Homo sapiens: one gene and its partner. The protein of the gene in region 1 purifies or fractionates together with the protein of each later gene. This does not show direct contact. Each region holds a gene or a part of one and is shown in the gene's direction. Other genes may lie near its edges.

The links.
Region 2: the proteins of UBLCP1 (region 1) and PSMB2 purify together in Homo sapiens (affinity purification with mass spectrometry; 2 studies listed by BioGRID and IntAct, with this or other methods). This does not show direct contact.

Annotation. Positions count from the first base shown.
Region 1 is NC_000005.10:159,255,757-159,268,303, forward strand, and holds the start of UBLCP1 (ubiquitin-like domain-containing CTD phosphatase 1), read left to right. Parts: upstream 1-7,533; 5' UTR 7,534-7,604; intron 7,605-12,547. UniProt on the Homo sapiens protein: Dephosphorylates 26S nuclear proteasomes, thereby decreasing their proteolytic activity. Recruited to the 19S regulatory particle of the 26S proteasome through its interaction with 19S component PSMD2/RPN1.
Region 2 is NC_000001.11:35,621,462-35,633,766, reverse strand, and holds part of PSMB2 (proteasome subunit beta type-2), read left to right. Parts: intron 1-2,229; exon of another isoform or gene 2,230-2,331; intron 2,332-2,422; coding exon 2,423-2,493; intron 2,494-12,305. UniProt on the Homo sapiens protein: Non-catalytic component of the 20S core proteasome complex involved in the proteolytic degradation of most intracellular proteins. This complex plays numerous essential roles within the cell by associating with different regulatory particles.

The DNA of each region.
Region 1 (12,547 bases):
GATCAGTAGTAGCTGACTGGGAAGCCTAGACTTTCACCCTTGATGGACTATAGGGTCCTCTAAACCCCCACCAGGCTGGTTTCAGAGAAGGCTGAGTGGGAAGCCCAACTTTCACCATCTTCCAGTGGTAATGAGTCCCCCACACACCCTCCAAAGTGTCATTGGAGGCCACGTGAGGATATGACAGTGAAACAGCAAAAGAACTAACATAACTAATCCATTTTTTAAGGGGCCTTTACTCATTCCTGCATGTAGGCTAGGATAATTTTAGAACACTGAGATAATATGCAAAAACAGCAATCATGTAGTTTTAAAAATGAACTCTAGGATTAAAGGAGAAGTATGTAAACAGCTAACTATATTTTGTTAAAGATTTATAGGAACATTTTCACATGACAAAGAAGTTCCCAACCACTGTGGACCCTCACTGGTGCCGAGATGTCTGTGGTTATTGGTCATCTCTTGATCTCAACTCCCTCCTTGTCCCCTTACCCTTACACAAAAAGAGCCTAAAATTTGTCTTGACTTAAGATGGTACTTTAGAATGATGGTCCACCATCTTCTCAGTTAGCTGGCTATCTGAATAAATCTGCTTTTCCTTCCACCAACCATCATTTTTCATGTCTGGCTTTCAAGCAGTGAGCAGCTGAACCTAGGTTCAGTTACATGGGGCAGTAATGAGGCATCCCTCTCCCTCCCAACCAGGGTGGTATCAGTGGAGGCCTAGTGGGGAGCCTGAACTCCCAACCCTGCTCAGCAGTAATGAGATACCTTCCCCACCAACCTAGGTTGTCAAGGGAGGCCTGATGGAGAGCTTTGACTCTCTCCCTAGTCAGAGAGGTTGGAGGTGGCATCTCCCTTCTCCTAACAATTCAGTGTCAGAGGAAGCCTGCTGAAACAGAAAATTTAAATAAGATTCAGCACCAAGATAATACAGATGTTGGAATGACGTTATCCTAGCCTACATGAAGGGTTTTAAAGCAGTCATCATAAAAATGCTTCAATGAACAACTAAGAACATGCTCAAAATGAATAAAAAGTGTTAGCAAAGGAATAGAAGGTATAAAGAAAAATAGATGGAGATTTTAGAACTGAAAAATACAATATCCCAAAAAAAATCAATGGATGGAAGAATGGAGGGGACAGAAGAAAGAATGAGCCTGAAGATAGAACAAGAGAAGTTATCTAATCTGAACAATGGAGAAAAAAATGGACTGAAAAAAAATGAACTGAGGTTCAGGGACCTGTAGACTATACCAAAATATCTAACATTTGCACTGTCAGAGCCCTGGAAGGAGAGGAGAAAGAGGGTAGACCTCAAAAAGTGTTTAAAGAATTCATGTTTGAAAATTGCCCAAATTTGGCTAAAGACATAAGCTTACAGGTTAAAGAAGCTGAGTGAACCCCAAACAAGATAAACACAAATAAATCCCCATCATGACACATCATTAGTCAAACTTTTGAAAACTAAAGACAAAAGATAAAAATATTGAAAGCAGCAAAAGGGAAACAATGGCTTATGAGTAGAGTAGAAAACAATTAGAAAGTCACAGGATTTCTCATCTAAGACATTGGAGGCTAGAAGAAAGAAGCACATTTTTCAAGTGCCAAAAGAAAAGAACAGCCAGCCCAGAATTCTGTATGCAGTGAAAATATGCGTCAGGAATAAAGCGGAAATCAAGACATTCTCAAATGAAGGAAGACTAAGAGCTTTTGTTGCTAGCAGACCTACTGTGATGGTTAATTTTAGATGTCAATCTGACTTGATTAAGGAATACCTAGAAACCTGGTAAAGCATTATTTTTGGGTGTGTCTGTGAAGATGCTTCCAGCAAAGATTAGTGTGTGGGTCTGAGTGGACTAGCTGGGGGAGATCCACCCGCAATGTGGGCAGGCACCATCCAATCTGCTAGGGGTTCAGAAAGAACAAAAACAGAGAAAAGGTGAATGTGTCACTCTATCTGCCAGAACTGGGATGCACTTTTTCCTTTCTTGTCCTAGGAAAACAACTCCAGGCTCCCCAGCCTTTGAACTCTAGGACTTACACAAAAGTCACCCTCCCTCCCCAACCAACTGGGTTCTCAGACCTTTGTCCTTGGACTCGGAGTTACATCACTGACTTCCCTGGTTCTGCAGCCTTGGAGCTTAGACCCCGCCACACTACCAGCATCCCAGAGCCTCCAGTTTGCAGACGACCTGTCAAGAGATTTCTCAGCCTCCACAATTGTGTGAGCCAATCCCTCTAATAAATCCCCTTACGCTTCACTTGAACTACTAACATGTTATCGCTAATTGACTGTTTTAAGTTATGTAAATATAATGTAATACCTAGAGCAACCACTACAAAATTTACAGAGATAAACTAAAAAAAATTATACAAAGAGATACACTCAAAAACCTTGCAGACAAATCAAAATAGAATTCTAAAATAATATTCAAGAAATCAATAGAAAAACAAGAAAAAAATAGAAAAACTAAAAATAGAAGCAACAAACAGAAAACAAAATATGGGTTGGAAGACTTAAGTCTCAACAGATTACGAATTACCTTATAAACAAACAGTCTACTTTATTTCTAAAAGGCAAAACTCAGAAACAACTAAAATGCCCAGTAAGTGAATGGCTAGACAAATTGTTGTACATCCACACAGGGAATCCTACTCAGCCATAAAAAGAAATGAACTATTGATACACAAAATAGCTTGACTGGATCCCAAGGGCCTTATGATGAATGAAGAGGCTGATTTCAAAACACTTATACTGTATGATTCCATTTACATAACATTCTGGAAATGACACAATTATAGAGGTGGAAAACAGATTAGTGGCCAGTGATTAGGAGTGGTCCGAGGAATGTGGATGGATGTGAGTACAAAGAGGTAACACAAGTGCTATGTTTGTGGTGATGGAATAGTTCTTTGTGTTGATCATAGTGGTAATTACATGAATCCGCATGTGATAAAATGGCATAGAGCTATATGTACACTCATTGCATCAATGTCAATTTCCTGGTTTTGATGTACTATAGTTATATAAGATGTAATTCACTGGGGAAAACTGAGTGAAGGGTACAAATGACTTTTTGCAGAAGTTTATAATAATTAAAAATTATAATTATAAAGTAATGTATTTATAATTATAAATATAAGTATCATTATAATTATAAAATATTTATAATTATTTTTAAATAATGGTATTTTTAAATAATTGTAGATTTTAAATAATTGTAGGTTTAGATAATTGTAGATTCCCAGGAGAATCTACAATTATCTAAAAATAGAGTTTAAAAAGTCTCATAAAAGTCTCATAAAAGGCATGGTGGCTTACACCTGTAATTCCCAGCACTTTGAGAGGCCAAGATGGGTGAATTGTTTGAGTTCAAGAGTTCGAGACCAGCGTGGGCAACATGGCAAAACTCTGCCCTAGAAAACACACACACACACAAAATTAGCTGGATATGTTGGCGCGTACCTGTAGTTTAAGCTACTCGAAATGCTGATGTGGATCACCTGAGCCCAGCACGTCAAGGCTGCAGTGAGCCATGATGGTGCAGTTGCACTCCAGCCTGAGTAACGGAGCAAGATAAAAAAAAAATAACATAAACTATACATATGTGTGTATGTGTGTGTATAAAGTCTAGAAAAGCAATGATAGGCACTACAAAAAGTTAGCAGAGTTATGAACGTATCTGTGTTATTTCAATATTTTTTAAAAGAATGCCTTTATGAACTTCTCATATAAAAAAGAAATAAAAGTAATGTAAAACTGTAAAAAATTCAGATGTACATAAAAATATAAACAAGATGGAAATTGCCTGTTCTGTGATGCCACAGATAATTTCATTAATTCACCTAACAAATATTTACTGAATACATCCTATAGAGCTATGATCTATCACGATTTTAGTGTGCATTTCAGACCTTTCCTGTACCTCCAGAGTTATATACAAATTGTAATCATTCATTGATATGTATTGTTACAAGCGTAATATGTACAGCTGGCCCTCTGGATCCACAGGTTCCAAAACTACGGATTCAACCAACCTCGGGTTTGAAGTATTAGGGGAAAAACCCAAAGATAATAAGACAACAATAAAAAATAATGGAAGTAAAAGCAATACAGTATACCAACTATTTACATAGGATTTCCATTGTATTAGATATTATAAGTAATTGAGAGATGATTTAAAGTGTATGACAGGATGTGTATAGGTTATATGCAAATACTATGCTATTTTATATCAGGGACTGGAGCAGCCTTAGATTTTGTTATTTATTGGGGGCCCTAGAACCAATCCCCTACCAATACCAAAGGACAACTGTTACATCATAAGCTCTTATTACTTAACATTCATTATTCATTCATTCAGCATATATTTATTGAGCATCTATGTTAGCCAATATCATGCTAGGTTCTGAGAATGGAAAGGTGAATAAATTGTCTGTTCCTTAACAAAATTTACTGATATGGTTTGTCTTTGTGTCCCCACCCAAATCTCATCTCAAATTATAATCCCCACGTGTTGAGGGAGGGGCTTGCTGGGAGGTGATTGGATCATGGGGGTGGTTTCCTCCATGCTGTTCTCATGATAATGAGGAGCTCTCACGAGATCTGATGGTTTAAAAGGGGCAGGTTCCCCTGCGTGCACGCTCTCTCTCTCTCCTGCTGCCATGTAAGACATGCCTTGCTTCCTCTTCACCTTCTTCCATGATTGTAAGTTTCCTGAGGCCTCCCTAGCCCTGTGGAACTGTGAGTCAATTAAACCTCTTTTATTTAGAAATTACCCAGTCTCAGGTAGCATCTTTATAGCAGTGTGAAAACTAATATGCTTACAATATAGTGGGAGAGAATGTCACTAAAGAAAGAATATTTCCAAGAAGTATACAATTATAGATTATGTCAAGTTCAGACAACTGTAAACAATGTTCTGAATATCCATCTGTGAAAGGAAAGGGTGATGGCTATGATGGCAAGATACCATGGCATGTTTATTATTGATGGGAATGAGCCAGTAGAAAGAGGTTAAAAATACAAGAGCAAGAGAAGGGAATCCTGGATTTATAGAAAGCTTCCTTAGAAGGAAGAAGCCGGAGAACAAGTTAAAGGGTTGGCTTCAAATAGAAGCGAACTGCCTCAACTGAAATAAGCAAGAGTGAGGATGACTGAAAATATACCTTAGTTTGTAGATTCAGAGGTTTGAAGAATTGCCAAAATATGGGACAATGTCATCTGCCTAGAGCAAAGGAGTATATTGGAAGTTCTGAGGTTTGAAGAGAATGGAGTTTTTAAGTAGTAGTTTGGGGAAAGCATGCTGAATAGAGAAGGGCAGTAACTGGGCATGCTTCATTAAGAACCTGTATTCTGTCATGTGGGGCAGATTCTAAATATTTTCAGCTCTCTTACTGCAGGCAAGATAAAGGCAAAGGAGTAGGTATTAGAAGAGAGAGACAAACTTCTAGAGGGAACTAAATTTTTGAAGAGGATTGTCTTCCAACTGGGAAGAGAGGGAAAGCTTTTTGAGGGGAGTAGATCTGAGCTGGGCAAGAGAACACACTTGCTAGAGAAAGAAAATGGCCAGAGAGAGAAAAGGGGAGAAAAAAGTCTGGGGGAGATGGAGATAAAAGCAGAGTAGTGGGGGATTTCTGGCCTAGGTGCAGGAATGTCCTTTTATCTTCCAAAGTAAATGTGGTCACAGTAATATTAACAGTTTGTCATCTGATGTTGTGAAATTGTTTCCATATATTATTTAGACTCTCAGACCTGACAATCTATGGAGGAATTCCCAGGCATCTTTAGCTGCTACAGAGATGCATGAATGAAGGACAAGTATATTATCCTCCACACATTAGAAGAGAGGCTCCAGGGAGCAACAGGAGGCAAAAGTTCTTCTTTTCTTTTTTTTTTTTTTTTTTTTTGAGATAGTCTTGCTCTATCACCCAGGATGGAGTGCAGTGGCATGATCTTGGCTCACTACAACCTCCACCTCCCAGGCTCAAGTGATTCTCATGCCTCAGCCTCCCGAGTAGCTAGGGTTAAAGGCACATGCCACCACACCTAGCTAATTTTTTTTATTTTTAGTAAAGACTGGGTTTCACCATGTTGGCCAGGCTGGTCTTGAACTCCTGACCTCTAGTCATCTGCCTGTCTTGGCCTCCCAAAGTGCTGGGATTACAGGTGTGAGCCACACTGTGCCCGGCCAACATTTATCATTTGTGTTGAGACTATCCCAACCTTTCTCCTCTATTTTGAAATACAAAATAAATTATTGATTACTATAGTCACCCTACTGTGCTGTGGAACGCTACAACTTATTCCTTCTGTCTAACCATATTTTCGCTCCTTTTAACTTCTCTTCATCTCCTTCTCCCTCCTTATCCTTCCCAGCCTCTGGTAACCACAATTTTACTCTCTATCTCCATGGAGTCAACTTTTTTTTAGCTCCCACATATGAGCACCAAACTTCAATGTAAGACCCAAAACTATGCAGCTATTCCAAGAAAACGATTTGAGAAAATGCTTGAAAATGTTGGTCTGGGCAATGATTTTTTTTTTTTTTTTAATTAAGACTTTCTGAAGAAAAGGGCATACTTTTCACTGAAAAAGTTTGAGTTTTTTAAATGAGCAGATACTCATGCATTACTAGTGCAGCCAAAAATTATCAAAAGTAGGGAAGAATGCAAAATAGCGTGTGCCTCTTAACTAAAGAACTGTTAAGATACAAAACTTGGCTCTTTGCTGCCTTTCCCGCACTGCCAAGAGGGAAACATGAATTAGTTACATTGCCGTGGTGCTCACTGGGAGTTCGCTGTATGGACCAGATGGGTACTGCTCCGAATTTCCATTCAAGTCTGACATTCTTTTGTCAGCGTTTGTGTAACCGGTTTTCCTTGCATTCAGAGGAAAGACAGCATGGAAGTATGGATGGGAAGGTTGAGACGATTGGATACTGTATGGTAACCTCGATCGCAGCTCTCCTATGAGACTTGCTTCTTGGATTCTGAGTCACTTAAGCTTGCCCCTTCTCTTTCCTGACCCTCTTCCGTTTCCCCTTAGATTGGAGATTCTCCTCAGATTCTAAGTCTCTGAAATTATTAGTGTTGGCAGCCCCTGGGCCCATGGAGGGGTCTCAAGTCTTCAGTTCTCAAAGATCACCTTTTAAGCTTCATTCGGAACATGACACAGCCACACGAGTCCTAGCCCTGAATCTCACGAAGACCTCAGTACACCTGGAAAAGGCAGCACACCCAGTTACGACACTACTAGAGACGTCACACGCCTCAGCACCCATCCGCTCCCAGCCCAGAACGAGCGCACGCGCAGAACGAGAGAGCGGCCACCCAGGGATCGGCGCTATCTGCACAGCGGTTACAGTCTCGGAAAGGCCTGGCTTCTTCGTGGCTTTGTGGAGATCCCTTACAGCGGCCATTTGATTAGCACCCGAAGAGATTCAAAGGAAGCAGTTGTTCCGTCCCCAACATATTTCCGTTTCAAACCACCCACTTCCGGTTTTTCAGCCGGTTCCGGTCCCGCCCTTCACTTCCGGTCGCTTTCGGTCTCTCAGCGGCCGGTTTCTGCGTCCGCTGCCGCAGGTTCCACCGCGCTCCAGGTGAGGGGTTGCGGGGCACCCTGGCGCGCTGCCCTTGGAGACGCTGTTGGGGCTCGGGGACAGTGGCTTTGCGGCCCGCGCGGCGTGGCTTGCACTGCGGCGGGCTGGGGATAGTGTCTGTCCTAGTCTGACGCCCAGGCCCCTAGCCCCGGCCCGCTTAGTCGCGGGGGCCGCTGTCCTCCCATCCAGCAGTCTAGCCTATTTGGAGGGCTTTCTGTTTCCCAGTGGGTTTTGCGTCCCCAAACTTCATTCCTCCGTCTTCTCAGGCTTGTCCATCCCTCCCCTCAACCTCCTTGTTGAAGGCATCCCGGCCTTTTTGGTTCTGGAGCCTCCACCTGCCTCCTAATGCTCCCCTAAGTCAGTTAGCACAGCCCCCGACCCTGCACCACCTCGCAGTTGTTGCTGGTGTGCGGTTCTCGCCGGAGTTCTTAGTGCTTCACGGTTATCTTTTGCTGGGATTGTTGAAAGTTAACCTCCCGTTAATTCCCAAAGTGTTACTTTTACTGCTATACTTTAAAATTTCTTCATTTGCCACTTTTTAGGTTTGTGGTCCCGGGCAAGTTTAATTTCTTTTCAGGATTCTCATTTGTATAATGAGGACAACAGCTGTTGGTTCAGGATTGTGAAGCTTCAATGAGATAATTGTTTAGCATGTTTTTATTCCATCATGAACACCATTTGTATTGTGTTTTACAGTTTACAAAGTGCTGTCACAGGTGTTACTTCATACCTTAACACTACTCCTGTCCAGTGAATATTAGTAGCCTCATCTTGTTGAGAAGACTGAGGCCAAGAGGTGGATTGACTAGGCAAAGTCAACACAGTATGTTAGGTAGAACTCCAACCTAAACAGCTATTCTTGACCCTAGGTTGACCATATGGAAGTGTATTCTTTGCTTGCTTGTTTGGGTTTGCCAACTTCACTCCTCCCCACACCCCAAATCATTTTTCAGCTTATAAATCTGATGGGATCTGAAATGATACAAAATACTAAGAAAGAAGGTTAAATGTGAAAGCAAAATAGCTCATGCATTTATATCACACTGCTTCATTGGTGTGAACGGTCTTAATGATGAAATAAGGTTCAGTAACTTTTAAACAAATCTTAAAGACATATGCATTTACAATTTTTATGGTGTTTGTTTCGCTTGGCCCTTTAAGGCATTTGCCAACTTGGAATTTCCACTTGTGGGATAGGTGCTTCGTAACGTTTTTATGCTGCTTTATTAACCATATAGAGCCCATGCCCTCTGGCACATTTTTTTTAAGGCTGAAAACATTGAAGAGCCTGTAGTACTGACTCTCAAATTTGAGCATTCATCAGAGGTGAGGAGGACTGACCTTGTTAAAACACAGATTCCTAGGTCCCTTCTCTCCACCCCAATTACATTTCTACCAAATTACCAAGTGAGGTCAATGCTGTTCGTTAGCCCAGGGACCATGCTTTGAAAACCACTAGTCTAGAAGAGCAATCACTTGTCCAGGGTCACCTGGAACTCAGATGATTTCACTCCAAACTCTGCACTACTACGCATCACAATATATGCGATATTAGTGCTGGTTGCCTTTCTAGCTCTCGTAGGATTCCCTTTTATTCTTATGTCTTACAGAAAATATTTAAACTGTATTTCAGTTTAACTCAAAAGGTCCACTTTTAATTGAAGAATATAACATTTGTTATAGTTCTGTCTAAAATGGAATACGTTACCCTAAATTAAGACACTTGCTTTACATTTTCAGTAGAACACATTGTAAACATAGGAGTAAATATACATTTATAGTTCATATTTGTATTCATATATGAGTAAATATAAATATGAATTTATGGCTCTCTCTTCTAATTGGCCTTTTAGTAGGAGACACTGTTTTTAAATTATTTTTGGAAGTGGAGATTAAAAATTTAACCTCTTTCTTGCAGTTGGTCCTAATAGTTGCATGAAGAGTGCAATCAAATGTTTCATCAAATAAGTGAAAGCATTGGAAATACCAATACCTTGAGATTAGAAAATCCAGTTCTCTGGACTGTGGGAGGAATGAGTTTAATGAAAAATAGAAAGCTTTATGCAGGAAGAGACATATGTTTGGTTATTTACATGAGTGGCAGCCACTATATAATCTTTGTGTGCTTAGATCTGTACCCATGGGTTTTGTATTTTCTGATTGATATGGTTTGGCTGTGTCCCTACCAAAATCTCAACTTGAATTGTATCTCCCAGAATTCCCACTTATTGTGGGAGGGACCCAGTGGGAGGTAATTGAATCATGGGGGCCGATTTTTCCCGTGCTATTCTTGTGAATAAGTGAATAAGTCTCATGAGATCTGATGGATTTATCAGGGGTTTCCGCTTTTCTGTCTTCCTCATTCTCTCTTGCCACTGCCATGTAAGAAGTGCTTTTTACCTTCTGCCATGATTCTGAGGCCTCCCTAGCCATTGTGGAACTGTAAGTAGCTGGGATTACAGGCGCCCACCACCACCTCTGGCTAATTTTTTTTTGTATTTTTAGTAGAGATGGGGTTTCACCACATTGGCCAGGCTGGTCTTGAACTCCTGACCTAAGGTGATTCACCTGCCTCAGCCTCCCAAAGTTCTGGGATTACAGGCATGAGCCACTGTGGCCAGCCTTGGGTATGTCTTAGCAGCATGAAAACAGACTAATACGGTAAATTGGTACTAGTAGAGTGGGGCATTGCTGAAAAGATACCCGAAAACGTGGAAGCAACTTTGGAACTGGGTAACAGGCAGAGGTTGGAACAGTTTGGAGGGCTCAGAAGAAGACAGGAAAATGTGGGAAAGTTTGGAACTTCCTAGAGACTTGTTGAATGGCTTTGCCCAAAATTCTGATAGCTATATGAACCATAAGGTCCAGGCTGAGGTGGTCTCAGATGGAAATGAGGAACTTGTTGGGAACTGGAGTAAAAGTGACTCTTGTTATGTATTAGCAAAGGTACTGGCAACATTTTGCCCCTGCCCTAGAGATTTGTGGAACTTTGAACTTCAGAAAGATGATTTAGGGTATCTGGCAGAAGAAATTTCTAAGCAGCAAAGCACTCAAGAGGTGATTTGGGTACTGTTAAAGGCACTCAGTTTTATAAGGGAAGCAGAGCATAGAAGTTTGGAAAATTAGCAGCCTGACTATGCAGTAGAAAAGAAAAACGCATTTTCTGTGGAGAAATTCAAGCTGGCTGCAGAAATCTGCGTAAGTATCAAGGAGCCTAATGTTAATCCCCTAGACCGTGGGGAAAATGTCTCCAGGCTATGTCAAAGACCTTCATGGCAGCCCCTCCCAGCACAGGCCCGGAGGCCCAGGAAGGAAAAAAGGTTTCGTGGGCCCGGCCCAGGGTCCCCGCGCTGTGTGCAGCCTAGGGACTTGGTGCCCTGTATCCCAGCCACTCCAGCCATGGCTGAAAGGGGCCAACTTACAGCTTGGGCTGTGGCTTCAGAGGGTGGAAGCCTCAAGCCTTGGTAGCTTCCATATGGTGTTGAGCCTGTGGGTACACAGAAGTCAAGAATTGAGGTTTGGGAACCTGTGCCTAGATTTCAGAAGATATATGGAAACTCTTGGACGCCCTGGCAAAAGTTTGCTGCAGGGGTGGGGCCCTCATGGGGAACTTCTGCTAGGACAGTGTGGAAGGGAATTGTGGGGTCAGAGCCCCCATACAGAGTCCCTACTGGGGCACTGCCTAGTGGAGCTGAGAGAAGAGGGCCACCACCCTCCAGGCCCCAGAATGGCAGATCTGACAACAGCTTGTACTGTGTGCCTGGAAAATCCACAGACACTCAATGCCAGCCCGTGAAAGCAGCTGGGAGGGAGGGTTTACCTTGCAAAGCCACAGGGGTGGAGCTATCCAAGACCATAGGAACCCACCTCTTGCATCAGTGTGACCTGGATGTGAGATCTGGAGTCAAAGGAGATCATTTCGGAGCTTTAACATTTGACTGCCCCGCTGGATTTCGGACTTGCATGGGCCCTGTAACCCCTTTGTTTTGGCCAATTTCTCCCATTTGGAATGGCTATATTTACTCAATACCTGTACCCCCATTATACCTAGGAAGTAAATAGCTTTCTTTTGATTTTACAGGCTCATAGGCAGAAAGGACTTAACTTGTCTTAGATGAGACTTTGGACTGTGGACTTTTGAGTTAATGCTGAAATGAATTAAGACTTTGGGGGACTGTTGGGAAGGCATGATTGGTTTTGAAATGTGAGGACATGAGATTTGGAGGGGCCAGGGGCAGAATGGTACAGTTTGACTGTGTGCCCACCAAAATCTCAACTTGAATGATATCTCCCATAATTCCTATGTGTTATGAGAGGGACCCAGGGGAAGGTAATTGAATCTTGGGGGGTGGTCTTTCCCATGCTATTCTCATGACAATGAATAAGTCTCATGAGATCTGATGGGTTTATCAGGGGTTTCCGCTTTTGCTTCTTCCTCATTCTGTCTTGCCACTGCCATGTAAGAAGTGCTTTTTGCCTTCCACCATGATTCTGAGGCCTCCCCAGCCATTCTGCAACTGTAAAGTCCAATTAAACCTCTTTCTCTTCCCAGTCTTGGGTATGTCTTTATTGGCAGTGTGAAAACAGACTAATACACTGATCTTTGATGCCTTAACTCTTGTATGTTCAACTGAAGAGATACAATTGTGGAGGAGAAGAAACATAAGATTTAGTCAGAAGACCTGTTCTGTAACTAGCTATGTGTCTATGTACAGATTGTATAGCCTCTCAAAACTCCTGTTTCCTTAATTGTAAAAGAGGGAAAACTTACCAAATTACTTTCTCTAATGAGATTGTGTAAAAACTTCAATTCATAAAATATGAAACAAAGAATGGCTATTTACTATTTATTTAGCACAGTGCCTGCCTGGAACATAGTAAGCTTTTAGTTTAAAAAGATTTTTGTTTAACCAATACTTAATTTATGTAGTGTTTACTAGGTG
Region 2 (12,305 bases), on another chromosome or scaffold:
GATGAATAAGGCTTAGTCCTGACATTCAGGAACATAAAGTACATGGTACTTAGGTTTATGCAGGTTTAGAATATTTCAAGAATTCTGCTTTTTTTTCCAGTGGTTCCACTTTTTGCCTGCATAACAAATGAAGTATGTCAGTAATGCTTCTGAAGTCCAGTAGGTACTGTATGACTTCACTGGCTGTCCTGAGAGAGGGAGAAGAGTGAACAAGAGTAGCAAGAGTTGTTTGTTACTGGGTTTTAGGGTCTAAAGTCAGTGCACAGACAAAAACTGTGTTTGGTTAAAATTGCCCTTAAAGACCCTTAAATTACCTGCCAAGTACAGTTTTGTGTATGTAACTCTATATAGTAATTCTTATATAAGTTAAAGAACTGAGCTAAAATAAGGGAAAGAAAGAGAAAATCTATATGCAGATAATCAGGCATGACTTTTCTGCCTTTAGGATAATGGTCAGATCTTCAGTGGTGTTTAGGGGGTTAAGTAAAGAATTGAATAGTATTCCCACTTGTCTAGGTTCCTTCTTTTTTTTTTTTTTTCTTTTTTGAGTCAGGGTCTCGTTCTGTTGCTCAGATTGGAGTGCAGTGGTGCAGTCTCAGCCCACTGCAACTTCCAGCTCCTGGGTGCAAGTGATTCTCGTGCCTCAGCCTCCTGAGTAGTTGGGATTATAGGCATGCACCGCCATGCCTGGCTAATTTTTTGTATTTTAAGTAGAGACAGAGTTTCGCTATGGTGGCCAGGCTGGTCTTAAACTCCTGTCCCCAGGTGATCCACCCACCTGGGCCTCCCAAAGTGTTCTGGGATTACAGGTGTGAGCCACTGTGCCTGGCCTCTTTTTTTAAATTATTATTATTATTTTTGTTGTTGTTGTTGAGACAGGGTCTCACTCCTGTCGCCTGGGCTGGAGTGCAGTGGCACAATCATGGCTCATTGCAGCCTCGAATTCCCAGGCTCAGGTGATCCTTCCACCTCAGCCTCCCAACTACCTGGGAAAACAGGTGTGCACCACCACCCCTGGCTAATTTTTATATTTTTAGTAGAGACGGGGTTTCATCATGTTGCCCAGAATGGTCTTAAACTCCTGGGCTCGAGTGATCTGCCTGCCTCCGCTTCCCAAAGTGCTGTGATTACAGGCATGAGCCACTGCACCTGGCCAAGGATTGCTTTCATTATGATTTAATATGCACTAATAGACTTGTGAGGATAAAGTACAATAATACATGTGAAAACACTCAGCATAGACCCTGAAACATAGTTGCTGCTCAATAAATATTTGTTAGGATTTGAATCTGAATCTCTCCTAATTTGACAGTGGTATTTGAAATGTTGTAAGCAATTACTTAACCACACTGCTGTGTGTCTTTCCATACTGACATTTTCTGTGTGGGCCCACTGAGTTATGGATCATTCTTGTGCCTTTTGGCACTGGTCCCATTCTACAGGGGGATTAAGCTCCAAAGTGAATGCGTTATTACATGCACACCTGATGCTATTCCTCTGGGTTGTACCTTTGTTGGTATGACAACTTTTATTTTTGAAGTTTTAACACTTGAGATACTCTATTTTTAAAAATACTGCAGAATGATGGAAATGTTCTTTTTCTGTGGCTTATACTTTTGAAAGTCATATTATACTTCTTAATAAAGTAACATTTAAAATATTTTTTTAATAAACTATGACTCTGAGGTAGTCCTAACTTCTAGCCTCTCTTTTCCCAATATCCTTTTTGTTCCTGTTTTCGTTTTTTTAGAGACAGGGTCTTGCTCTGTCACCCATGCTGTAGTGCAGTGGCACAGTCATAACTCACTTGAACTTCTGGGGTCAATTGATCCTCTCCACTCAGCCTCCTAAGTAGCTGGGATTACAGGCATGTACCACCATGCCTAGAAATTTAAAAAAAAATTTTTTTTAGAGATGGGGGTCTCACTATGTTGCCCAGGCTAGTCTCAAACTCCTGGGCTCAAGCGATCTTCCCACCTTGGCTTCCCAAAGCTCTAGGATTACAGGCATGAGCCACTGTGACTGGCCCCCAATATCCTTTTTAAAATAAACTTTTAAAAGATTGGCATCTAAGACGCCTTTCTTTTTTTTTCACTTCTTGTGTATTCGTGTTCCTTTCCTTCTACGGCAGAAACCACAGTGTGTTGATGAATGAATAGTTTAAGCAAGGCTGCTAGAAGTTTCATTCCACTATAGAACTGGTTCTGTTTGTGGCCAAGAATTGCTGTCAGTACTAACCAGCTATTTCATAGCTGTTGCATGAGGAAAGGGACTAGAGTAGGATTGTACCCCTCAGTCTATGCTTTGTTTACTCTGAGTGTACAAAAGATGGTGGGCTTTAGGAACAGGGGTAGTGAATAATTTGGGGCACTGTTATTCCTTCTGCTTTACTTTAAGTATGACTCTTTATCTCTTCTACCAGGATATGAATTGTCTCCCACGGCAGCAGCTAACTTCACACGCCGAAACCTGGCTGACTGTCTTCGGAGTCGGGTAAGTAATATATCAGACATTGTTAGATAGAGCAGAAAAATCCTTTGTGCTTCTTTTATATTCTCATTATACATGAGTAGTATTTTTGCCCTTTTTTGGCCTTCCAGAACCCCTCCTGTTGCTACTTGTTCATTCTTAAGTCCAATGTCTTTGTGCACAGTTGTTATTAATAGGTACAGCCCAAAGGGCAAATATTCATTCCCAGAGAATTGGTTGGGACACACCAATATGAAGGCCTGTGACAACTTACCCTTTTTTTTTCCCCCTAAAAACTATTTTTTAGAGCAGTGTTAGGTTCACAGCAAAATTGAGAAGAAGTATAAAGATTTCCCACATTCCTCCTCACCCACATGTATAGCATTCCCCATTATCAGCATCTTCCACCAGGGTGATACATTGTCACAAATGATGAGCCTATATTGACAGTAATCACCCAGGTCCATAGTTTACATTAGGGTTTACTTTTGCTGTTGTGGATGTTATGGGTTTGGACAAATGTATAATGACATGTATCTACCATTACAGGATACAGAGTATTTTCACTGCCCTAAAAATCCTTTGTACTCTACTTATTCATCCTTCTCCATCCCCACAACTCCTGACAACCACTCATCTTTTTACTTTCTCCATGGTTTTGCCTTTCCCATCATGTCATATAGTTGGAATCATGGATTATGCAGCCTTTTCAGATTGGCTTCTTTTATTTGGTAATACACGTTTAAGGTTACCCTATGTCTTTTCATGGCTTGATAGCTCATTTCTTTTTAACATTGAAAAATACTCCATTGTCTAGATATACTACAGGTTATTTATCCATTCACCTACTGAAGGACATCTTGGTTGCTTCCAAGTTTTGGCAATATGAATAAAGCTAATGTATACATCCATGTGCAGGTTTTTGTTTGAACATAAGTTTTTTTTTGCGTAAATACCAAGGAGTGTGATTGCTGGATCATATAGTAAGAGTACGTTTAGTTTTTTCAAAGTGTTTTTGTAACAAACCATATTACTTAATACCTGTGACTGAAAGTCTCTATGTGTTAGTGAAAGTAGAACTTTGAAAATAATAATTCAGATTATTTTTATTTTTATTTTTTTGAGATGGAGTTTCACTCTTGTTGCCCAAACTAGAGTGCAATGGTGCAATCTTGGCTTACTGGAACCTCTGCCTCCTGGGTTCAAGTGATTCTCCTGCCTCCATTTCCCAAGTAGCTGGGATTACAGGCATGCACCACCACGCCCAGCTAATTTTGTATTTTTAGCAGACACGGGGTTTCTCCATGTTGGTCAGGTGTCAGGCTGGTCTCGAACTCCTGATCTCAGGTGATCTGCCCGCCTTGGCCTCCCAAAGTGCTGGGATTACAGGCGCGAGCCACCGCACCTGGCCGGTAATGTGGATTTTTATCTCGAGATTGCTTATCTGTGTTTCTCTTTTTTTCTTTTTCTTTTTTCTTTTTTTTTTTGAGACGGGGTCTCACTCCAGTTGCCCAGGCTGGAGTGTAGTGGTGTGATCTCAGCTTACTGAAGCCTCAACTTCCCGGGTTCAGGTGATTCTCCCACCTCAGCCTCCCAAGTAGCTGGGACTACAGGTGTGCACCACCACATCTGGCTAATTTTTTGTATTTTTAGTGGAGGCAGGATTTCACCATGTGGCCCAGGCTGGTCTTGAACTCCTGGACTCAAGCAATCTGCTGGCCTTGGCCTTTCAGGGTGCTGGGATTATAGGAATGAGCCACTCACTGTACCTGGCGTACTTACCTGTGTTTTTCTATGACTTTTTCCCAAAGCATACAGCATTGTTCCTCCTTACTTATTCTAGCCTTGTTGCTATTCTAGAGCTGTCTCCATTTCATCGACAGCATGTTAAAAGATGCAACACTAAGTTAAGGATTGAATGCATTAAAGATTGTGTAGGATGTGCTAGGAAAGTTCATATGGTTGCTAAAGGTGTGTGTTATTCCCTTCCCACAGGGACTAAATAAATAGAGCCTTACCACGTGATCTCACCCCCTGTGCCTGTTTACTTATCTATGAAATGGAGATAACTTCCTAACCCCACAGGGGTGCCAGGAAAATGAATGCTTGTAAATCATAATATTTAACATTCATGTGACTTTTGCCCAAAGCATTTTGCTTAATAATTTAATCTACTCACTATTCCACTGAGAAAGATAGTCTCTATCACTGAGATGAAGTGAAAGGCATAAAGTGTCAAAGGGACTAGCTCCAGGTCACACAGCAGGTCAGACAAAGCTAAAATAATGGTGCCATAATTATTTGACTATTCTGCCTTTGGTTCTTCAGTAGTGTTTCTAGAACACTGATGCTATTCATATTTTTATTATGGTTTGAGTTTTCATCTGTACTTGCTTAAAATAACAAGTTACTTTTTTTAAAGTTACTTACTACAGATCTATAAAGCAGTTTATTTTCTAGTGCCTAATAATCTTTGACTGATAATTTCTCAATAAATAGTACCTCTCAGTGCTAGCTTTGACCAAGGGCTTGTACAATCTGAGGGATCATGAAGTTTGAAGAGAAGCTAGAGACATGTAGGATTGAGAGGAGGAGGCAAATTTACATACATTGTTTTGTCCTGGGTGAAAGATCAGTAGTCTTTTCTTTAAAAAAAAAAAAAAAAATATATATATATATATATATATATATATATATATATTTTTTTTTTTTTTTTTTTCTTCCAAGAAAGTCATTGTCACCAAGTGGTCTTTTCTTCACTCCTCCTTGAGAAAGGAAAATGGGTCAGATATTAGTTTTTCTGTCACCCAGAAGTTCCTGTGGTGTTCAGCATTTTATGACTTGCCATGTACGATGTTCCTCTGACTTATCAGGCAGAACCGGAGTAAGAATTCCAGCTTTGGGCACAATAAATACTGTGTCATAAATATCACAGACATTAAGTGAATTAAGCTCCTTTTTGGAATTGAGATAAGAATGGCAGTGTGCTTCATGCAAATGCAGTGAATCTGGTTTAATCTTCTCCTAGCAGAAATGTTTGATGTCTTAACAAATATCCCTTGTAGACAGTGACATGGGGCTCTGGTAAATATTGACTACCTCTGCCTGAGCTTTTCCAGTAGGTCCAATCTCTGCTCCCCCATCTCCTTATCAAAATAGATTCTTAGTTCTAAAATATGAATTTATATTTTAGTCGTCTTATTCTGGGAAGAGAGATGATAGTTTGTCAGTGTTCCTAATAAGTGCAAAGTCACCAAATTTAGTATATTTATATGGTCACACCAGTTGGCAGATGTGACTCATTTTGGGTCAGCCAGTTACCATGTATAACTTCTGTGTCTGTAGCTCAAATTGTTTGATTTCTAATTTGCTCTGTGTATGTGTGGTGGTTTGGTTGGGAGGACATTTACTACCACTGAGTATATAATGAATCTTACATAAACTGGTTCATTAAAATGTAGGCAATTTAGCATTGTGGTTAAGAGCATAGTCTCTGGAATTGGACTACCTGGGTTTGAATATTTGCTTACTGACTTACTAGCTGGATGTCTTTGGACAAATTCTAAGCTTAATTTCCCTACTTACCAATTTCAAAAAGTTATTATGAAGATTAAATAAGGTAATAATGCAAAGCTCTTACTTTTTTTTTGAGACAGGATCTCACTCTGTCATCTAGGCTGGAGTGCAGTGGTATGACCACAGCTCTCTGCAGCCCCTTGACCTTTCAGGCCCAGATGATCCTTCCACCTCAGCCTCCCTGGCAGCTGGGACTGTAGGTGCATACCACTATGCCTGGCTAATTTTTTGTAGAGATGGGGTTTCTCCATGTTGCCAGGCTGGTCCCGAACTCCTGGGCTCAAGCAATCCTCCCGCTTCTGCTTCCCAAAGTGCTAGGATTACAGGCATGAGCCACCATGCCCAGCCCACTTGTGTTTTTATGCTGCGATTGCTGTTTGGTCAAAGAAGCAATTTAATGGCTATAAGTTAGTTTTTCGTGAGGGATCATTTGTTGTGCTTTTTTTTTTTTTTTTTTTTTTTTGAGATAGGGTCTCGCTCTGTCACCTAAGAGGTGGCACAGTCACAGCTCACTGCAGCCTCAACCTCCCGGGCTCAAACAATACTCCCACTTCAGCCTCCCAAATAGCTGGAACTACAGGCGCCAAGCCACCATGCTGGTATTGATAGGGAAAATAGAAGTAAAATAACATTGAACATATATTATGTGCTAGGATTTTTCTAGATCTACACAGTCCAGTATGGTAGCCAACTAGCCACATGGGGCTATTTAAATTTAAGTTAATTAAAATTAAATAAAACTTAAAATTCAGTTTCTGGTGGAAAATCTCCTGGTAGACTTTGCCTGAATGCTAAATCAACTTTTGTTCTTAAAAAAAAAAATTCTGTTCCTCAGTCACAGCCACATTTCAGGTACCCAATAGCCACAACTATTGTATTAGACATCACAGATCTGGAACATATCCATCATCATAGAAGTTCTCTTGGACAGTGCTATTCTAAATACTTACATATGTATCTGTTATTAAGTATCCTTATTATGACACCATAAGATGTGTGTTATCCCCATTTTACTTACAAGGATGTTAAGTATTTCTCTTAGATATGTTTCCAAAGCACATATATACTATGTTAAAGGTTAAGATTCCAGCTTCAAATATCAAACTCTTTCATGGTGTCTTCTTTATTAATTAGTGGACTAATGTACAAGTGTATTTGTGCATTTAGGGAAACATGAAATGTTCAGTTTTGTTAAAATGTCGAAATTGCACATAGTATTATATAGATAAGTTTGAATATATGTCCATTGTAGGTTTTCAATAAGTGTTTGCTGAAAAAGTGTCATCCAGCTAGGTCTATATATTCTGCTGAGAATATTAATTATGCATTTATACACTGGAAGGGAATTCTTAATGAATGGAATACCGGAAGAAGTATTCTTAATAAATGGATGTTAATTTGTATAGGAATTAAAGGCATGAAATCATCAGAAGACGAAAAAAGACAGATGGGGAAAAAATTCAGAAGCCTTCAGTTTAGTTGTTTATTTAAATGCTTGTATACATTTAAGATGGTCTCTTCTTGTTGGTTAGACCCCAAAGAGCAGAAAAAGGGCTTATACTATGCTCAAGGCTTGCTTTCTTCGGCCAGGCACAGTGGCTCATGCCGGTAATCCTAGCACTTTGGGAGGCCAAGATGGACAGATCAGTTGAGCCCAGGAGTTCAAGACCAGCCTGGCCAACATGGTGAAACCCCATCTCTACTAAAAATACAAAAAATTAGCCAGATGTGGTGGCACACACCTGTAATCCCAGTTACTCAGGAGGCTGACGCAGGAGAATAGCTTGAACCCAGAAGGTGGAGGTTGCAGTGAGCTGAGATCATGCCACTGCACTCCAGCCTGGGTGACAGAGCAAGACTCTGTCTAAAAAAAAGGCTTCCTTTCTCAAATTCTCCTTACAGTTTGACTAATGTCAGAGGATGATGAGTTATGGGGCTATTTCTTTTCTTTTTTTTTTTTGAGACGGAGTCTCACTGTGTCACCCAGGCTGGAGTGCAGGGGCACGATCTCGGCTCACTGCAAGCTCCACCTCCCGGGTTCATGCCATTCTCCTGCCTCAGCCTCCTGAGTAGCTGGGACTACAGGCGCCCGTCACCATGCCTGGCTACTTTTTTGTATTTTTAGTAGAGACGGGGTTTCACCATGTTGACCAGGATGGTCTCGATCTCTTGACCTCGTGGTCCACCCGCCTTGGCCTCCCAAAGTGCTAGGATTACAGGCATGAGCCACCATGCCCAGCCTATTTCTTACTTAAAATGAATTATGTGGCATATTTGATGTAGCCCATCTGAATGCCCTAAAATTATCTCCATTTAACAGATAGAGAGACAGGTATAAACCAGGCAAATCTGGTGTCCTTGGGAACGTGAAATTTTGTGGCAAGGCTTAGAGTAGGATGCTGGCCTCCATGATGTGTAATCGTCGGGTTTCACTGCCACACTGGCCAAAGAGTTTTCATTAGAACTTTTTCCGAAGTGTTTCATGAGCCTTTGGTAATTTATCTTTTTACCTATTTATTTGTAAATGCTTAGCAAGTAAACAGTAGAAATAATAAGTTGAAAAGATATCCAGCCTGATGTAGTGGTTTTCAAACTTTATTCTGTGAAGCTGCTTCAGGATACTCACCAAGGAAGACCAGTGTGCAATGCTTTTTTTTTTTTGAGGTGGAGTTTCGCTCTGTCACCCAGGCTGGAGTGCAGTGGCATGATCTCAGCACACTGCAACCTCCACCTTCCAGTTTCAAGTGATTCTTCTTCCTCAGCCTCCCGAATAGCTGGGACTACAGGCGTGCACCACCATGCCTGGCTAATTTGTGTATTTTTAGTAGAGACGGGGTTTCATCGTGTTAGCCAGGATGGTCTCGATCTCCTGACCTCGTGATCCACCCGCCTCGGCCTCCCAAAGTGCTGGGATTACAGGCGTGAGCCACCGTGCCTGGCGTTTTTTTGTTTTTGTTTTTGTTTTTTTTGAGACAGAGTCTTGCTCTCTCACCCAGTCTGGAATGCAGTGGTGTAATCTCGGCTCACTGCAACCTCTGCCTCCTGGGTTTGAGCAATTCTCCTGCATCAGCCTCCTGAGTAGCTGGGATTACAGGCATGCATCACCATGCCTGGCTAATTTTTGTATTTTTCATAGAGACGGGGTTTCACCATGTTGGCCAGGCTGGTCTCCAACTCCTGACCTCAAGTGATCTGCCCACCTCAGCCTCCCAAAGTACTGGGATTACAGGCATGAGCCACTGCACCCAGCCAAGTGTTCAGCACTTTAGCTCTGCTTCATATAGCTCAACTCAGCTTTTATCTATTTGATAGATAGGAATTCTAGGTAAAGTTTTATTTGAAAAGGTGCCATCACTGTTCCCTTACCACCAAAGAGCCCTGCAATAGGAGGGTTAATACTAGCTCTGCTGTGAGTTAGTTGAAAACCTTGGGAGAAAGCAAGCATTTGATTGGATGGTTTTTAGGGTTTGTTCCAGCCCCCAAATAGCATGATTTAAAAATCTTATGTCAAGACCACAACCAGACTTGAATTTTTATTTATTTATTTATTTTTTTAGGGAATGGGAAAGAATATGTAGGAAAGGATTTCAGGTCTTAGTCATTTCCAGCAGTGACCAAAGCTTATCCCCACACTCTGGCCTTAATTCAAGGCTGTTTGGTCTGGTTAGTAGTAGGCATGTATAGCATGCTCCTGTCCTAGAAGAAACCTGTTGCTTTGAGCCTTCTATTCTGACCATGAGAATTATTCTTCTCATGCCTTAGGTGGCTGGCACAAAGGCATCATCTGTTTATTGGTATCAGTGAGGTCCTGTGAACAGATGGCCCAGGTGAAACCCTGACTTTGCAAGTCTTGTCCCTTATACACTACCAACCATTTGTTACATGTGATTGAAATATCACTAACAAGGGTAATTTCACATGATTTTTGGCAAACGTGGTTAGCAGGATGTGACATGACGCAGCACTGCCTTCTTCCTCCATGTGCCATCTCCCTTGAGGCCTCATCTTCTCTACTTGCCCCCGTCTCACCCATGCCGAGGCTTGCCTTCAGCTCACCTGCTCCAGATGGGCAGCACAGTGGGAGGACACTGGCAAAGGCAGATGTGTTTATTTTCCGGAGACAAAATGTTGTGCTGCTGCAGATGGCAGTGCCTTGGAGCAAGAGGCAGCCTTTGACACTGCTGCCACACAGCCTGGGCATCTTGACAGACAGAGCCAGCTTACTTTTGGTGATGCGGAAATTCAAAAATAAAAAACGAAAACCAAGATGTTCATTATGCAGCTCTTGGACTGTCAGTGCAAGCAGCAGCCCTTTTAGACCTGGGGAGCAGTTTTCTTCCCTACCAAACCTTAGTCAGCTAGTGAGCTAACTGTGGATTGTCACTGTAGGCCAAGAGTTACGTGTCTGTTCATTACTTTTGTCTCCCAGCCTTAACAGGACATAAAGTAAAAACTGGAAACAAATGGCTACATTTAGATGGATACTCAGTTTGGTTCTGCAAAACATATGTGTATCCCAGGTCCCATCTCACAGGAGTCTCTTAGGATTGGGGGTGGCTCATGTTGGCCCCATTGGAGATACCGCTGTTCTGTTTTTAGTGGTCATTTTGATTATCCAAAGACCCAGAGACAGATGTGCCTTGAAGTTGAGGTGTCTCAATTAATATGACAACACTTTGTGCTTATAGTGTTTTTCTACTAGGAGGAGTAAGCATTCTGACAGCTGCCCTTTTAAGCAGTATGCGTATGCATTAGTTAAAGCTTGACTAAGTCCATTAGGAAGACAAAGACTGGCTGTTGAATCATTACACTTACTAGGATCCTAAAAAAAATAACTTGGGAAGATTATTTGAAAGTTACTGGCTTTATCAGGAAATTTTTTTTTCTTTTTCTTTCTTTTTTTTTTTTTTTAAATGTGCTGTTTTTCCTAGCCCTAGCTAGTTAGGAGTTTGCAGGTGTAAAGTCCTCCCCCTCCCCTTCCCTGTCTCTCTCCAGGGGGTTGTATGTGAGAAGGTGTTGCTTTCTCACTCAGAGAGCATATATGTGCTACCCTGTTGGATGCCTGCTGCGAGCCCAGAGAACCCCCGTGCTCATTGAATGGAATAAGCCTATTGGATGGCTGGAATTTTGCAGCCCCATAATGCCAACTTTTCACTTAAAGCATCTTTCCTATCCACAATGGGAGTGAAGCAGTATATGTACTTGGTCTAGATTTATATTGTTTTAAAACTCGTGTCTTAAAAATTTTGTGATTTCCTATTAAGGTTTGGTTTAAGCCTAAGGCAGGATAGTGCTGTGTCTGCTTAGTAGGAATGTGCTTTTACTTTTAAAATGTTTACTATTAGAAGTGCAGATTTACCCCCAACTTTTAAGATTGCTTTAAATCACTTGCCCCAGTCTGGGTAGGCATAGGTGTGGGCATGCCCTCCCACATACTCACAGATACAAACACACACAATATCCTGGCATCTTGGTGCCTCTTTTTACCTGCCCTGGCCCAAGATCATGTAGGAATATGAATTTAGGGGCTGATCTCAACAACCTCATGAGGTTTTCTTTACTCTCTCCCAAAAAACAGTTACCTAAAATGAAGGGCAGTGGGAAGGCTTTTCACAAGGGGAAAGGTGGATTTTTCTATTTCTTGACCTGAGAGGTTGTTACGTGTATATTTACTATGTTCATTCGCTATACCATGTATATTTTATGCTTTTTTTTTTCTTCTTTTTGAGACATAGTCTCGCTCTGTCGCCCAGGCTGGAGTGCAGTGGTGCTGTCTAGGCTCACTGCATCCTCTGCCTCCTGGGTTCAGGCAATTCTCCTGCCTCAGCCTCCCGAGTAGCTGGGCCTACAGGCACATGCCACCATACCTAGCTAATTTTTGTATTTTTAGTAGAGATGGGGTTTCACTGTGTTGGCCAGGCTCCCGACCTTGTGATGCATCTGCCTTGGCCTCCCAAAGTGCTGGGATTACAGGCATGAGCCACTACGCTTGGCCTATTTTATGCATTTTTATGTGTATGAGTTATTTCATAAAAAGCTATAAGAAAATGAAAAGGAAGACTAAAAGGGTGGGAAAACATATTACTTTTTAACCTAAAAATGAAAAAAAAAGGGCCAGATTTACCATTACTTTTGAATGTAGACAACAGAGCAAATAGGATTAACTGATTGGAAAGAAGAAAGGAGATAATAGTCTCTGAGTCTTTGTAAACTGAAATGATCCAGCAGAATTCTACACTTCCTTTTCTGACGCTTCCTGA